Linked DNA regions of Homo sapiens: region 2 is linked to region 1. Evidence: fine-mapped expression QTL. Tissue or cell type: tibial nerve. Region 1 holds a variant in brackets; the other region holds the start of a gene. All regions are shown on one strand. Distances are between the middles of the regions.

Region 1 (8,111 bases):
AATAAAAAAATTAGCCTGGTATGGTGGCACGTACCCGTAGTCCCAGCTACTCAGGAGGCTGAGGCAGGAGAATCGCTTGAACCCGGGAGGCAGAGGTTGCAGTGAGTTGAGATCACGCCACTGCACTCCTGCCTGGGCGACAGAGCTAGGCTCTGACTCAAAAAAATAAATAAAAATAATGAAATAAATAAATGAGTAAAAATAAATTATCTTCTTTATTTCCTTCCTCTATTCTCTCCACTGTCTTTCAATGTTTCTATTTTATTGTCACTTGATCAGTTTGCTTTCTCCATCAAGAATATGACATCAGGAAAATAGTACAAATGTTGGAACTTCACAAACCTGATTTTAATCCTGCCCTGCCCACTAGCTGTATAAGTTGAAATGTCACTTAACTCTGCTAAGTCTTGGTTTCTACACCTTTGAACAGTTACTACTTCCTACTTTGAAAAGATGTGCCATTCAATGAGTCAATGTGTTCATTCTTAAATGTTTATTCATCTTTTGCCAAGTGCCAAGCACAGTGTGGGCACTAGACCAATAAAAACACTTCTGTGTGTTCCAGGTACTTTATATTAATTGACTCATGTTACTATCAGCATTTCACAGATGAGGAAACTGAGGCATGGAGGGATTCAGCATCTTGCTTCCAAAGGTAGTATCAGGCTGTGCCTAGAGACCAAGCCCTTACTCTATGCCAGTGGTCCCCAACCTTTTTGGCACCAGGGAACGGTTTCCTGGAAAACAATTTTTCCACAGACTGGGGTTGGGTGGGGGGAGTTTCAGGATGATTCAAGCGCATTGCATTTATCGTACACTTTATTTCTATTATTATTACATTGCAATACATAACAATTATACAACTCACCAAAATGTAGAATCAGTGGGAGCCCTGAGCTTGTTTTCCTACAACTAGACGGTCCCATCTGAGGGTGACGGGGAACAGTGACAGATCGGCAGGTGCTGGATTCTCATAAGCAGCGGACAACCTACATCCCTCGCGTGGGCAGTTCACAATAGGGTTCGCACTCCTATGAGAATCTAATGCCACCGCTGATCTAACAGGAGGTGGGGCTCAGGCAGTAACGGAAGCAATGGGAAGCGGCTGTAAAAACAGATGAAGCTTAGCTTGCTGGCCCGCCGCTCACTTCCTGCTGTGCAGCCTGGTTCCTAACAGGCCACAGAACGATACTGATCTGTGGCCCAGGGGTTGGGGACCGCTGCTCTATGCCATACATGAGGAAGAAAACAAAGTCCGTGCCTTCCTGAGACTTTCATTCCAAACGTGAAATCTGGAAGACTCTGGGACAGTTTGTGATAGACAAATGGTTCCTCTTTCCTTCCCCCAATTCCATGGCTAAAAGGGAGAATCACAAAATAAAACAGGAGAGAGGCAATCTGAGAGCTACCCCATTTCAACTCCCTCCCTCTTTTAATAAGGAAACCAAGAGCAGTGAGCACTTGTTCTGTCACAGGTGCACTCACTCACCTTAATCCATAGGTCAGTGACTCTCAAACTTGAACAAGCTTCAGAATCACCTACAGGGCTCATGAAAATAGTTTGCCTAGTCATTCCCAGAATTCCTGATTCAGGAGGTCTAGGGTGAAGCCCGAGAATTTGCATTTCTGACAAGTTCCCAGGTGATGCTGAGGCCGCCACTGCTGCTGGTGCTGCCCCAGCTACCACACATGAGAACCACCGTCACAGAACAACTCCACAAAACAGGTTATTTTTGTTCCCATTTTACAGATGAGGAAACTGAGCATCAGGAAAGGTAGGTTTCTTACCAGAAAGAAGCTACACCACTAGACTGCCAGACAGGATTTGAACCCAGATCTGCCTGACTCTAAAGCCCATGCTGCTTCCACGACACCAAAGTTAAGAGATCTAACATTCTCGGCCCGATGCGATGGCTCATGCCTGTAATCCCAGCACTTTGGGAGGCCGAGGCAGGTGATCACCTGAGGTCAGGAGTTCGAGACCAGCCTGGCTAACATGGTGAAACCCCATCTCTACTAAAAATACAAAAATTAGCCAGGCATGGTGGCAGGCACCTGTAATCCCAGCTACTCAGGAGGCTGAGGCAGGAGAATCGTTTGAATCCAGGAGGCGGAGGTTGCAGTAACCTGAGATTGTGCCACTGTACTCCAGCCTGGGCAACAGAGTGAGACACCATCTCCAAAAAAAAAAGTCTAGGATTTCTCCATTACCATTACATGTCTACTCTTTTTTTTAATTTTTTTTTTTTTTTTTTTTTTTGAGACAGGGTCTCTGTCGCCCAGGTTGGAGTGCAATCATGGTTCACTGCAGCCTTGACCTCCCAGGCTCAAGAGATCCTCCTGACTAAGCCTCCCAAGTAGCTGGGACTAGAGGTACAACACCGTGCCCAGCTAATTTTTTCTATTTTTTGTAGAGATGAGGCCTCACTATGTCTGCCTCAGCCTCCCAAAGTGCTGGAATTACAGGCATGAACCACCACACCCAGCCCTACTGTATTTTAGAACTTCTGTTCTTGAAAAGCAAAGTCAAGTTCCCTGTAAGTGCATAATATATTCTCATTTTCAATGAGAACAGAAGATGGTTTGTAAAAGCTATTTTTAAGTGTCCCTATTTGCCCAGTAATTCCTCTTCTAGAAATCTATGAGAATAATTCAAAATATAGCCCAAAACACAAAGGCATTAAGTGTTCAGCAAAACACTGAGAATCTAAATAACCAATATAAAGAGATTGGTTAGGCCGTGCAGCGTGCTCACGCCTGTAATCCCGGCACTTTAGGAGGCCGAGGCGGGCAGATTACCTGAGGTCAGGAGCTTGAGACCAGTCTGGCCAACATGGTGAAACCCCGTCTCTAGTAAAAATACAAAAATTAGCCAGGCGTGATGGCATGTGCCTGTAGTCCCAGCTACTCAGGAGGCTGAGGCAGGAGAACTGCTTGAACCCAGGAGGTGGAGGTTGCAGTGAGCCGAGATCACGCTATTGTACTCCAGCCTGGGTGACAGAGCGAGACTCCATCTCAAAGAAAACAAACAAAATAAATAAATAAAAATAAAGAGACTGGTTAAATAAATTATTATATATCCAAATGATGAAATATTATGAAGCCACTGAAAATTATTTATTTAGAATGTTTGAAACATCAAAGTATTTATGATACAACACTAAATAAGGAAGAGCACAGAACTAAATTCAGTAAGTACTCAATGTTTATAAAAATATTGAAAAAAGACTGAAAGGAAATAAGCTAGACTAACAATACTTCCCTGCTTCTAATAATTTTCAATACATTCCACCCTTTCTACTACAACGAGCTTTCTTAGTCAAAAAAAAAAAAAATGCACTCTGTTTGTTGACTAAATACTTTCAAGACTCTTTTACAGTTAGTCAATTCCTGAAAAGCCAGGAAAATCAAAATTGTGAATTTTAAGGCTAATATTTAATTCCAGATTACATTTCCCCTGACCCTAGAATATACATTTTTAAAGTTAAAAAAAGGAAAAAAACGCAAATGATAATTATTATAAATACATAGAAAAAAAGGCTATAAAAATGACTAGAAATATGACAAAAGGGATTAATTTTGGTTGGTGGAATTATATGGCTTTTAAGTCTTAACAGTGTTTATTACATTTTCTACAATGAACATCTATCACTTTTGTAATTTAAAAAAAGTATTTGCTATCTTTCTTTTTAAGAGACAACCATCAAGCAAATTATATCACATCTATACGATGGAATATTAATAGACATTTTTAAAAAGTTGTAGAATATTTAATAATATAAAAAAAGGTCTGATATATTATTAGCTGACCATACTATAGAACAGTATGTTCAGAATGATCCCATCGTTTTGTTTAAAAACAAACAAAATATCCATGTATACACAGAAAACACCTTGGCAGGAAACAGACCAAAATATTAATAGTGTTTTATTCTAGGTAGTAGGATTAGAGATTATTTTAATTTTCTTATTTTTGCTTCTGTTTTGGTCAGTTTTCCTCTACTGAATATGAATTACTTTTCCAATATGAAAAAAAAAAAAAGTTTTAAAAAAAATCTAGGTTAAACAAAAAGTTACCTTGTTAAACAAAAAGTTACCTTGTTAAACAAAAAAGAGACAAAGACAAGCAGGGGCATCTTACTGAAAGAACTTCCTTTACAAAGATTTCCAGCCCCACTCCAGCTCTAATGTTTAAATCCATAAACTACTTGTCTTCTAACATCACCAGGTCAGTAAGCATCAACCCTTCCTGCTGTTCCAGACTTAGTCATGCTGGAGGAAGACATGAAATCCAGCAGCAGAGGCCACCCCTCAGGACTGGGTGCGGTGGCTCACCCCTTTAAACAAGACCCTGGTGGGGAAAAAAAAAATCTAACCACCGTCTAAAGCTATGGAACTGATTACAAGTAAATATAATTTACAATCATTTGATTAAGAAAATGCACTATTTACGTTGCAAATAACACAATACCTACAGAATTATACTCTCAGACTTGGCAGAGACCTCTAAGATCATCTGAAGACAATTTCCAAGACCCTGTCTTTAGGATGCTTTGTAAATATTGACTGGAAACAATAACAGAGATGTCACACCACAGAATCTTAAGTAAACAGTTCAAAAGCCTGGCTTCCTGTTTATACAA[C/T]TGTAAGTCACCTTATTGCTAGCTACAAGGTTATTCAGCATTCTGATTTAATCTAAGAATTTCTTTATTTTATGCATAATAAAAGGGACTACAAAGAACAGCTGAAAAGCCAGAAGACAAAGGAACAAAAATAAACAATGACGTGTATTCCAACCCAAACAATGAGAAATCTATGCAACTAGACTATCAGTTCAATCTATTTCCAGGTCGCTATCCTCACTGTGACACGTGGCAGAGTTACGCACAGATGTCAGCACCAAGACTTCCTTTTCTGGGAGTAATCCAAATTCCTGGAGAAAAGCTTCAAGGTCCACAGCAAAGAAATCATCCCCCAGCTGGTCAGTAACACGAACAAAATTGCCGATCAATTCACCCCCCTTATAGATCAGCAGGGCAGGAAGGGCATTCCTGGTGAACTGACTGCTGGCGCCAATAACTGAGCTCTTCACCTTGCAGAACTTGACAGCTGGGTACTCTGCGGCAAGGCAGATCATGCAACCATTCATGGCTTCGGTCCCTGGAATGCCATCCTCATAAATATGAACCATGATGACAATGCTTTTCTGTTCTTTATCAATCATGTCTAAAAACCCTTCTCCACTGGAGATCTCAAAAACCTGCTTGAATTGGGGCCCCTTGTGAAGCTGCTGCCGCATCTCTTCCATTCGCTGCTTCCGGTACTGCTGCAGAAACTCTTCATCATCTTGGTCCTCATTCATTATGGCAAACTCCTTCAGAGTCATCTGCAGGCGGACCAGCAAGTGAGCATAAATATGAAAACTGAACACTCGTGATAACAGTTAATATGGGCCGGGCGCGGTGGCTCACGCCTGTAATCCTAGCACTTTGGGAGGCTGAGACGAGCGGATCACTTGAGGTCAGGAGTTCAAGACCAGCCTGGCCAACATGGCAAAGCCTCATCTCTCCTTAAAAAAAAAAAAAAAAAAAAAAGTTAGCAGGGCATGGTGGTGTGCACCTGTGGTCCCAGCTACACTGGAGGCTGAGGCACAACAAGAATCACTTGAACCTGGGAGGCAGAGGTTGCAGTTAGCCAAGATCACACCAGTGCACTCCAGCCTGGGAGACAGGGTGATACCCTGTCTCCAAAAAAATAAAAAGAAATAAAACAGTTAACATGTACTACATGCTGATAATATATAAGGCACCATGCTAAGTACTTTACATGCATTATATCTCACTGAATTCCATAACTCCATCGGGAAGGGACTTTTAATAGCCCCACTTTATAAATGAGGTTCCAAAACTTGACATTATTTGAACAAGTTCACCCAGTAAGCATAAGACCAGTACTCAAACTAGATTTTAAAAACCCATGTTTTTAACTACAATATCACATTTCCTCTCAATCCAAATAGGCAGCATCATATAATCTCACTTCATGAGCTTATTTCTTTTTGTCAGTCTTGACAATATTTTATCTACTTTTTTTTTGAAAGATAACAAGACATTACAGAATTTTAGAAAAAACTCTCATAACCCCTGCCCCACACCATCCCCAAACACACACACACACACAGAGTCATATGGACTCTAAAAATTATTTTTATTACCAGTCATACTAAAATAGTTTTGCTTTTATAGCAGCAGCTGTGGGTGTACCAATTAAGCCATAACCTGCTTTCGAGACTTAGCACGATTATAAGTATTTCCTCATGTTTCCAAATATTTTTATGAAATTATATATAATGTGTCACTTTGCTTAATCACTTCCCTAATTCTGCCAGACAGTTTCCAATTCTGTTCTATTGCAGATAAATCAGCAGGACGGGAACAGCCTCTCACAAGACTGATCCATGTGATGATATGATGTTGCCTCATTCTGGCCTCTCACCTCAGTATCAGGAAGCAGCTGTGAGCAGCAGGCACAATGCCCAAGAGACAGCTTAAGCTACGAAAGCATCTTACCCCTGCCCCGGTGCAGCAAGACATCCTCGCTCCTCTCATAAAACCTAACTCTGCCTAATGTTGCATAGATTAGGGAACAGGGAGTGGGAGATCACACTAGATCAGAACACGTTGTTACTTTATCATAACCAGCAACATTCTGAGTTCACTATTTTACTTATTGCCAATTTTCCTCCCATCTTGCAGCCCTCCACTTCAACTCAGTCTACCAGAGTGGCTTCTTCTGACCTATTGAAGTCTTTGGCTAAGTGTAATGTCCTAAAATCAGCCTCCTGGTCAAGGTGAATGATTCCCAGCTTAATCCTCTTATCTGCTCCCTGATCCTGTGTGGTATTTTAGCTTTGGGCCATAACTAAATGATCTCAGGCACTCACAGACATTCGTCCACACTCAGAGGGCATCCAGAGAAACAGTGAATCCCTTTTAATACTGATAGGATAAGAGGCCATCACGGGCCGGGCACCACGGCTCACGCCTGTAATCCTAGCACTTTGGGAGGCTATGGTGGGAGGGTCCCTTGACCTCAGGAGTTCCGAGACCAGCCTGGGCAACATAGACCCTGTCTCTATTAAAAAAAAAAAAAAAAAGGCCATCAGGTGCCTACTTCCAAATATCTTCCAGAGTATCTGTTTGCTTATTATAATGCCTCCTTAGAATAAATTCTCATGAATAGGCTTCAGATGAAATAGCAACATCATGGAAGAAACAGGAGTATTTGGGTTAGAACCCTAGCGCCTACTAGAATTTACCAGTTGCATTGCCCTGAACAAGCCTCTAATGCCCTCTAAGCATTGCTTCCATTATCTGTAAGAAGGGGATAATACCACCACCCTAAGAGGGTTATTTCTGGCCCAAGATAAAACCTCAATAAAAGAAGGGAAACTAAAATTTACTGAGCACTTTCAATGGGCCAGACACTGTGATGGGCATATTAACAACACAGCCCTGCACGGGGAGGATACATCATTTAACCATTGAAACACCAGATTCAGAAGGGAAGAGACTCTCCCACAGTCACTAGTAGCAGAACTGAGATCCAAAGCTGGGTGGGTTTGAGTTTTGACAGGGCTCTATGATTTCTCCTGCACTGCACAACTTCTTGGAGGTCAAATCAAGCATCCTCCACCTCTTGAATCACTCACCCAGCTCTAGCAGCCACAGCAGACTCTAAGAAAAGCCTGAGTACTGCTAATTACCTTCCCACTGATCTTCTCCTGGAGGTCTTTCTGTTTCTGTTGCTCCTCCTCTTCATCCAGATGGGACCTGCAAGTCATTGACAGCTTCTTGATCAGCCTTTCCATCTCCCGGCACTGCTCCTCCCTCTGCTCTGTCTCCAACTGCTTGAAGCGGCGCCAGTCATTGATCACACCTTTTGGGCCTGAGTAGGGTGAACACGGATGTGACCAAGGAGAATGGGCAGGGAATTATGGACCAGCTGACATCTGTAGGTAGGAGTTCACATCTGCCTGAAGCTTGCTCCATCTACTGCACAATTATCATAGGGACTCTGTGTACTCTGCCACAGGGCAGAGTGGCCTATAC
Region 2 (8,111 bases), 230 kb before region 1:
TTTTTATTTCTAGCCTTCGACGTACAGGATGGCACACTAGAATGCGGTCAGAATGAATGCCGAGTGCCAATGATCATTTACAAATAAAACCATTGAATAATAACCTTTCTGTTTCCCTTAGTTGATAGGTCTAATCTGTAATAATGTAAGTTTCCATATGGTCAAAGCAGAGGAACACCAGTGCTAAGGTATTTAGTACAGTCTGCATTTTTCAGGGCATATGACTCATGCTGAAGATCGTAACAATGCCAAGAAGACACAAGAATATGAGAAAGGAATTCCTAGAAAAAAGGCAAAGGTTTCAATGACTAAGCTAATTTTTTCTAAGTCTACTGATAACATACTCCCTACCCCATCCTCCATTAATAAAAGAATGGTTGTTGTATTGTATTATGAGGGAATTAAAAGTGTGATAAGACTGTGCTGGTGTCAGGGTATGTTTGTGTTGTATTTGTTTTTTGTTTTGGGGTTGTTAAAAAATATACTTTTGTTCTAGGCTGAAGCTACTACACTGTGGATCAATAAAACTACTAAAAAGTGTCCCAAGTAACTACTATAATGGTAATTTGCTTTCTTTTAGTAATAAGAACACACCACAGCACAGCTACAATAAAATAAGGTCCTAGAATGAGCAATAGGCCTTTATTTATAAAATTAAGCAATACTCAGTGTCTCTCTAAGGCCAGCTCTAAAAAGAATTCGACTGAATATTAAATATAATTATAATGGTTTATATTTATTTCATAATAGTGACAAATATGGGCTGGGCACAGTGGCTCACACCTGTAATCCCAGCACTTTGGGAGGTTGAGGTAGGCAGATCACGAGGTCAGGAGATCGAGACCATCCTGGCCAACACACTGAAACCCCGTCTCTACTAAAAATACAAAAATTAGCTGGGTATGGTGGCATGTGCCTGTAATCCCAGCTACTTGGGAGGCTGAGGCACAAGAATCTCTTGAACCCAGGAGGCGGCGGTTGTAGTGAGCCGAGATGGCGCCACTGCACTCCAGCCTGGCGACAGAGCAAGACTCCGTCTCAAAACAAAACAAAAAAAAAGTGACAAATATTATATTATGATCATCAGTCAAAGCAATTACAGTTAGGTAAAAAGGTAGGTCATTATAATTAGACTTCCAAAAAATTTTCAAAAATCTTTGTAGGACTCCTGTTTCTAGCAATTAGGCAAACTAAATGCATAGAACACATTTTCATTTCAAAACTCCTAGATATATCTACTTCCTTGTAAGAAAAATAAAATTTAGAAGTCTAGAAATACCAAGAAAATGTGAATTCACAGAGGTAAGCGAGTGCCAATCTTCTTTAAAAATAAAGACAGAGGCCGGGCACAGTGGCTCATGTCTGTAATCCCAGCACTTTGGGAGGCTGAGGCGGGTAGATCACCTGAGGTCAGGAGTTTGAGACCAGCCTGGCCAACATGGTGAAACCCTGTCTCTACTAAAACTAGAAAAATCAGCAGGATGTGGTGGTACACATCAATTGCTTGAACCCAAAAGGTGGAGGTTGCAGTGAGCCGAGATCACGACACTGCACTCCAGCCTGGGCGATACAGTGAGACTCCATCTCAAAATAAATAAATAAATAAATGAATAAATAAGTAAATAAAGACAGAACTTTATTTCTTAAAGCTTCACAAGAAACAAGAGACAAAGCACGGTGTCAAAGCATGGGGAGGAGATCATGGTATTGGAGACCTTTCCCTAAAGCTAGGACCACTGAAGGACTAAGCTCATAGTGTAAGAATTATTTTTTTTAAGTCTAATTTATTTTTGGAGATAGCAAGAAAAAGCAAATTTCTTTTTCTGCGTTTTTGACTTAACCATATTTTTTAAAACTTCTGAGAAGTGTTGCGTTTTTGACAAGGATATATTTTTAAACTTCTGAGAAGTATCAACGTCTAATGAAAGATTGAGAATACACTCAAACTGCATCCATGGCTTAAAAATAATAAACTAAGAAGAATTTGGTTTACGTTGGAATTAGGTAAAAGTAAACAAAAATCCTTTCTGGAAAATGGTTTAAGCCCAGACTTCAAAGACTTTCTAGAGATAAAGTTCCAAAATTTATGAGTTTAAAAAATACAAACAAGGCTCGGCGCAGTGGCTCACGCTTATAATCCCAGCACTCTGGGAAGCCTAGGCAAGAGGATCACTTGAGTTCGGGAGTTTGGGGCCAGCATGGGCAACATAGCAAGATCTTATCTCTGCACAAAATTAAAAAAAAAATTAGCTGGGCATAGTAGTACACACCTGTAGTCCCAGCTATGCAGGAGGCTGACATGGAAGGATCACTTGAGCCCAGGAGTTTGAGGCTACAGTAAGCTACACCCCATTGCACTACAGCTGGGTTGACAGAGTGAGACCCTGTCTCTTAAAAAAAGTTATTTTTTTAAGTTAAAGGAAAAAAAGACATAATGAGCAAGAGTTAGCAGAAATAACAACAGAATGAGACTAAAAAAGTTAGTAGCCACAATTTAAAAATAATCAGGAGTACATATATATGAGAACAAAATAAAAATCTCTAGAAATAAAAGTGTAATTAAAATGAAAACTAAAAGCAGCTCAACAGCAATTTAGATACAGCTCAAAAGAGAATTAAATAAAAAATAGAGCTAAATCATATAGATTATAGCAGAGAGAGAATATAAAAGAATAAGGAAATGGGATTATTTTATTATATTATTTTAACATAATATAATCAGAGACTCAATAAACAGGAATAGCAATACGTTTTGATGTGTAAATTTATAAATACTTTCCAAAAGAGGCAAAAGACCAATGTTCAGGAAAACTTCCATGTGGGACAACATGGAGTAAACAATAAATGGATACGCCCCTATTCACTCTAGTCTGATTTTGCAAAACAATCAGGCAAATCCCAACTGAGAGACATTCTATAAAATATTTCATCAATATTCCTTAAAACTGTCAGGGTCATCAAACAAAAAAAAAAACAGTAAAATATGAGAAACTCACAGTCAAGAGAAGCCGAAGGAGACAGGATGACTGAATATAATATAATATCCTCGATGGGATCCTGGAACACAAAAAAAGGATATTAGATTTTAAAAGTAAGGAAATAGGCCGAGCGCACTGGCTCACGCCTGTAATCCCAGCATTTTGGGAGGCCGAGGCTGGTGGATCACCTGAGGTCAGGGGTTTGAGACCAGCCTAGCCATCATGGTGAAACCCCATCTCTACTAAAAATAAAAAAAAATTAGCCGGGCATGGTGGTGTGTGCTTGTAATCTCAGCTACTTGGGAGGCTGAGGCAGGAGAATCACTTGAACCTAGGAGGTGGAGATTGCAGTGAGCAGAGATCGTGCCACTGCACTCCAGCCTGGGTGACAAGAGCAAGACTCTGTGTTAAAAAAAGGAAAAAAGAAAAAGTAAGGAACTAGGAATAAAGTGTGAACATTAGTTAGTAAATAAATAAACATCAGGAAAGCCAGACAAAATGTACAAAGCAAGTGATTTTAGATATTGAAAAAGGTAGCATGGGGAGATAGAATTTTCAGAATTGAAGTGTAAGGACTTCAGAAAATCTGCTCCTAAAAAAAGCAACAACAAAAGCTAGCATGTAATCCAGCACTCTAGGAGGCTGAGGTGGGAGGCTCACTTGAGCCCTGTAGTTTGAGACCAACCTGGGCCACAAAGTGAGACCCCATATCTAGTTAAAAAAAAAATACCTGGCAAATGTAGCCAGAAAGATAGAAACTGTTTCTGAGGTAGTCCAGATGTTGGAATTACTAAACAAAGACTTTAAATCAGCTATGTAAATATATTTATAATAGGTAGTAAAATATATATTCATAAGTTATAGAAATCAATGTAATACACCATATTAAGAATAAAAATGTAAAAAACCATATGATCATCTTGATAGGTGAAGAAAAAGCATCAAACAAACTTCAACACCCTTTCATGATAAAACACTTAACAAGCCGGGAAAGCTTGAAAACTTTTTTAACCTGATAAAAGGCGTCTATGAAAACCTCACAGCTAACATCATACTCTAGGGTGAAATACTGAGTGCTTTCCTCCTAAGATCAAGAACTAGATAAAGATGACAGTACTTGCCACTTCTAGTCAACTGTGATGGTTAATAGTGAGTGTCAACGTGATTGGATTAAAGGATGCACAGTATTGCTCCTGGGTTTGTCTGTGAGGGTACTGATTCATGCTACAACATGGACAGACCTTGAAAACATGGGCTGGGCATGGTTGCTCATGCCTGTAATCCCAGTACTTTGGGAGGCGGGGGTGGGGGGTCGGATCTTTTGAGGCCAGGAGCTCGAGACCAGCCTGGCCAACATAGTGAAACGCCATCTCTACTAAAAATACAAAAATTAGCTGGGCGTGGAGATGCACACCTGCACTTCCAGCTCCTAGGGAAGCTGAGGCATGAGAATTGCTTGAATCCAGGAGGTGGAGGTTGCAGTGAGCCAAGATTGCACGAATGCACTACAGCCTTGGTGACAGAGCAAGACTGTCTAAAATATATATATATATATATATATGTGTGTGTGTGTGTGTGTGTGTGTATATGTGTGTATATATGTATATAATGTGTGTATATATATACAACATTATGCAAAATGAAAGAAGCTAGTATAAAAGGGCCACATTATATGATTCCATTTACATGACATGTCTATAAGAGGCAAATCCATAGGGAAAGAAAGTAGATGGGTTGTTCCTAGGGGTTGGGGACAAGGTAGAATAATGACTTACTGCTAATGGGTACTAGATTTTGGGTTATGAAAATGTTTCAAAATGAGATAGTTGGGAGAATTTTACGACTCTGAATTAAATTTACTGAATTTACTGAAATTACACTGAATTTTATGGTATAGGAATTATATGAACAAAGCTATTTTTAAAAGGCTATGCAAAACAGCTATCCTCAACAAGGTTGGAAACTTAGGGATGATCTTTCTTATTTTCAGTCCTACTATCTGGAGAGCATTTCCAGGCTTCACTGTAGAAAGGAAAAATCAAAAATATTCCAGCAAACTCTTTTAGTTGAGGAGACAATGTTTGAAGACCAGGGAAGCCTCAGCTTCCCTAGTAGCTGGGACTGCAGGTGTGCACCACCACGCCCAGCTAATTTTTGTATTTTTAGTGGAGACCGCGTTTCACCATGTTGGCCAGGGAAGCCAAGAAAGCTAGAATTCTTGGGACAATACCAGAAAAAAGGAAATTGTGCAGAGAGAAATATCAGATATTTTCTGGTGGGCTTTCTTGGGCCTTTGACTGGGTTTAGATCTGAACATGTGTGTGAATAAACTACCTGAGGCTGGAGAAAGTATCACTAGAAAAGGCTGGGTGGAACATTCATTTTGATGTACCTCTAGTAGTTTCCAGCACCACGGGGAAGGTAAATGGGAGTGACTGCTAATGGGTGCAGGGTTAGTTTTTATGGTAATGAAAATATTCTAATGCTAAACAGTTGTGATGGGTGCACAATTCTGGGACTATACTAAAAACAACTAAATGGAACACTTTTTAAAGTGTTATACTGTTATAAAGTAAATTTTATTGTATGTGAATTATATGTTAATAAATTTATTTTAAATTCATAAAAAATTTCCTAGGTTTTCTTCTAGGATTTTTATAGTTTCAGGTATTACATTTAGGTCTTTAATCCATCTTGAGTTAATTTTTGTACAAAGTGAGAGATAGGAGTCCAGTTTCAATCAATGGAACTCCCATGTCCTAGCAGTGAACAATTGAGAATTTAAATTTTTAACATGAAATTTATGACAGTATAAAAACTAAGAAATACATAAGGACAAATTTAACAATATGTGAACATATTATACATTAAAAACTATAAAGCATTAAAGAAGATTCAAATAAATGAAGAGATATACCTTGCATATAGATTAGATTACTCAATATCATGGTGTCAGTTCTACCCAGATTGATCTATAGATTCAATGCAATCTAAATCAAAATCTTAGCAGGCTATTTTAGAAGCTAATTATTTTATATGGATATAAAAAGAAACCAGAAGAGCAAAAACAACTTAAAAGTGGAAAACAAAACCAGAGAACTTTATATAATTTTAAACTTCCTATAAATTCATAACAATGAAGATAATTTGATAATTGCATAAGGATAGGCATATATATATAAATGAAAATCTTAAAATAGACCAATATGTGTATGGTCAATTAATTTTTTACAAATGCACCAAGGCAATTCGATATGGAAATGATAGTTTTCAACAAATGAGGCTAGAACAATCACTATCAATATATCTTAAATTAAATGAACATAGGCTCTTATGCTGTACCATATACAAAAAAAACTTGAAATGGGCCAAACATGTAAGAACTATAACTATAAAACTATTAGAAGAAGACATTGGAAAAAAATCCTGGCAAACTTGGGGTAGGCAAAAATTTTCTTAAATAGGACACAAAAATCATGAACTACAAAAGAAAAATTTCTAATTTAGACTTCATAAAAATAAAATGCATTTGCTCTTCAAAAGACACTCAATAGGCTGGGCACGGTGGCTCACGCCTGTAATCCCAGCACTTTGGGAGGCTGAGGTGGGCAGATCACCTGAGGTCAGGAGTTCAAGACCAGCCTGACCAACATAGTGAAACCCCATCTCTACTAAAAATACAGAAATTAGCTGGGCATGGTGGTGGACACCTGTAATCCCAGCTACTCGGGAGGCTGAGGCAGGAGAATTGCTTGAACCTGGGAGGTGGAGGTTGCAGTGGGCCAAGATCATGCCATTGCACTGCAGCCTGGGTGACAGATCGAGACTCCATCTTGAAAAAAAAAAAAAAAAGACACTCAATAAAAAGCCACGCCTCAGGCTGGCAGAAAATATTTGCAAAACAGATCTCTAAGGAATTATTGAATGTGTAGTATCTACAGAAGGAAAACAATCCAATTATTTAAAAAACTGTGTGCAAAAGATTTGAACAGATACTTCATCAAAGAAGATATATAGTATATCAGCATTTGTAAAGACACTCAGCATCTTTCATAATTAGATAAATGGAAGTGAAAACCAAATGAAATACCATGACAAACCCATTAGAATGGCTAAAATTCAAATGACTGACAATCCCAGTTGGTAGTAAGGACATGTAGAAATTAGAACTCCCAATCACTGGCTGTAGTAATGCATTATGTAGAGCCATTTTGGAAAGCAGTGTCAGTTTTTCATAAAGTTAAACATGCATTTGACCCAAGCAATTTCAGTCCTGTATATTTACCCAAGAGAAATAAAATTCTCTTGACATAAAGATTCGTATGCATAGACACTTTAATCATAACAAACAAAAACTAAAAACAACCCAAATGTCCATCAGCTAGTGAACAGATAAACTGTGTTATGTCTACGCAGTGGAATACTAACCAGCAAAGGGGAAAAAACTGTGAATACATATAACAGCATAGATAAATCTCAAAATTAGTATGCAAAGTGAAGGAAGTCAGGTGTAAAAAATATACTGAATGATTCTATTAATATGAAATTTTGGAAAAGGCAAAACTATAGCAACAGAAAGAACATTGATGACTATTAGGAGCATTGAGTAGGGGAGAGGATTGGCTACAAAGGAGCATGAGGGAGCTTTCGGGATGGTGGTGTTCTACATCCTGATTGTGTTGGTGGATCTGCAAGTGTTTATATTTCTCAAAACTCATCAGATTTTACACTTTAAATGGTAGATTCTATTATATATATTATGCCCAAATAAAGCTGAGAAGAAGAGGACAAATTTTCAGATCCATCAAGCAAATGATCCCAAATAGCTTATATGAGGGAAATTTACATCTAAACACATTATAATGCAAATGAGGAAAATAAATATATAAAAAGCTAAAAGCAGCAAAAGAGAAAAGTAATTGTATGCAAAGGATCATTATTAAACTGGCAAACATCTCCTAATCACCAGCAATGGAAGTCATAATACAGTTGAATAATATCTTCAAAGACTAAGAGAAAATAATTTTCAACTTAGGATTGTAAATTCTTTTTTTTTTTTTTTTTCTGAGACCAAGTCTCACTCTGTCACCAGGCACCAGGCTGGAGTGCAGTGGCGTGATCTCGGCTCACTGC

The links. PIP is the estimated chance that this variant, and not a neighbour inherited with it, causes the effect.
Region 2: it holds the start of OR1L8, and the variant in region 1 is fine-mapped to the expression of OR1L8 in tibial nerve (GTEx, PIP 0.96).

What each region holds. Positions count from the first base shown.
Region 1 is chr9:122,815,251-122,823,361 of GRCh38, forward strand. PDCL (phosducin like) reads right to left here. Exons shown (of 4, transcript NM_005388.5): 3 at 7,766-7,947; 4 at 2,847-5,386. The coding sequence ends at 4,835. Among named protein-coding and RNA genes, the nearest start is that of PDCL, 9.3 kb to the right of the region's middle. The variant C/T (reference allele first, on the strand shown) is at 4,644.
Region 2 is chr9:122,580,325-122,588,435 of GRCh38, forward strand. OR1L8 (olfactory receptor family 1 subfamily L member 8) reads right to left here and starts at 3,060. Exons shown (of 5, transcript NM_001004454.2): 1 at 2,997-3,060. It also overlaps a transcript of OR1J2 not described here.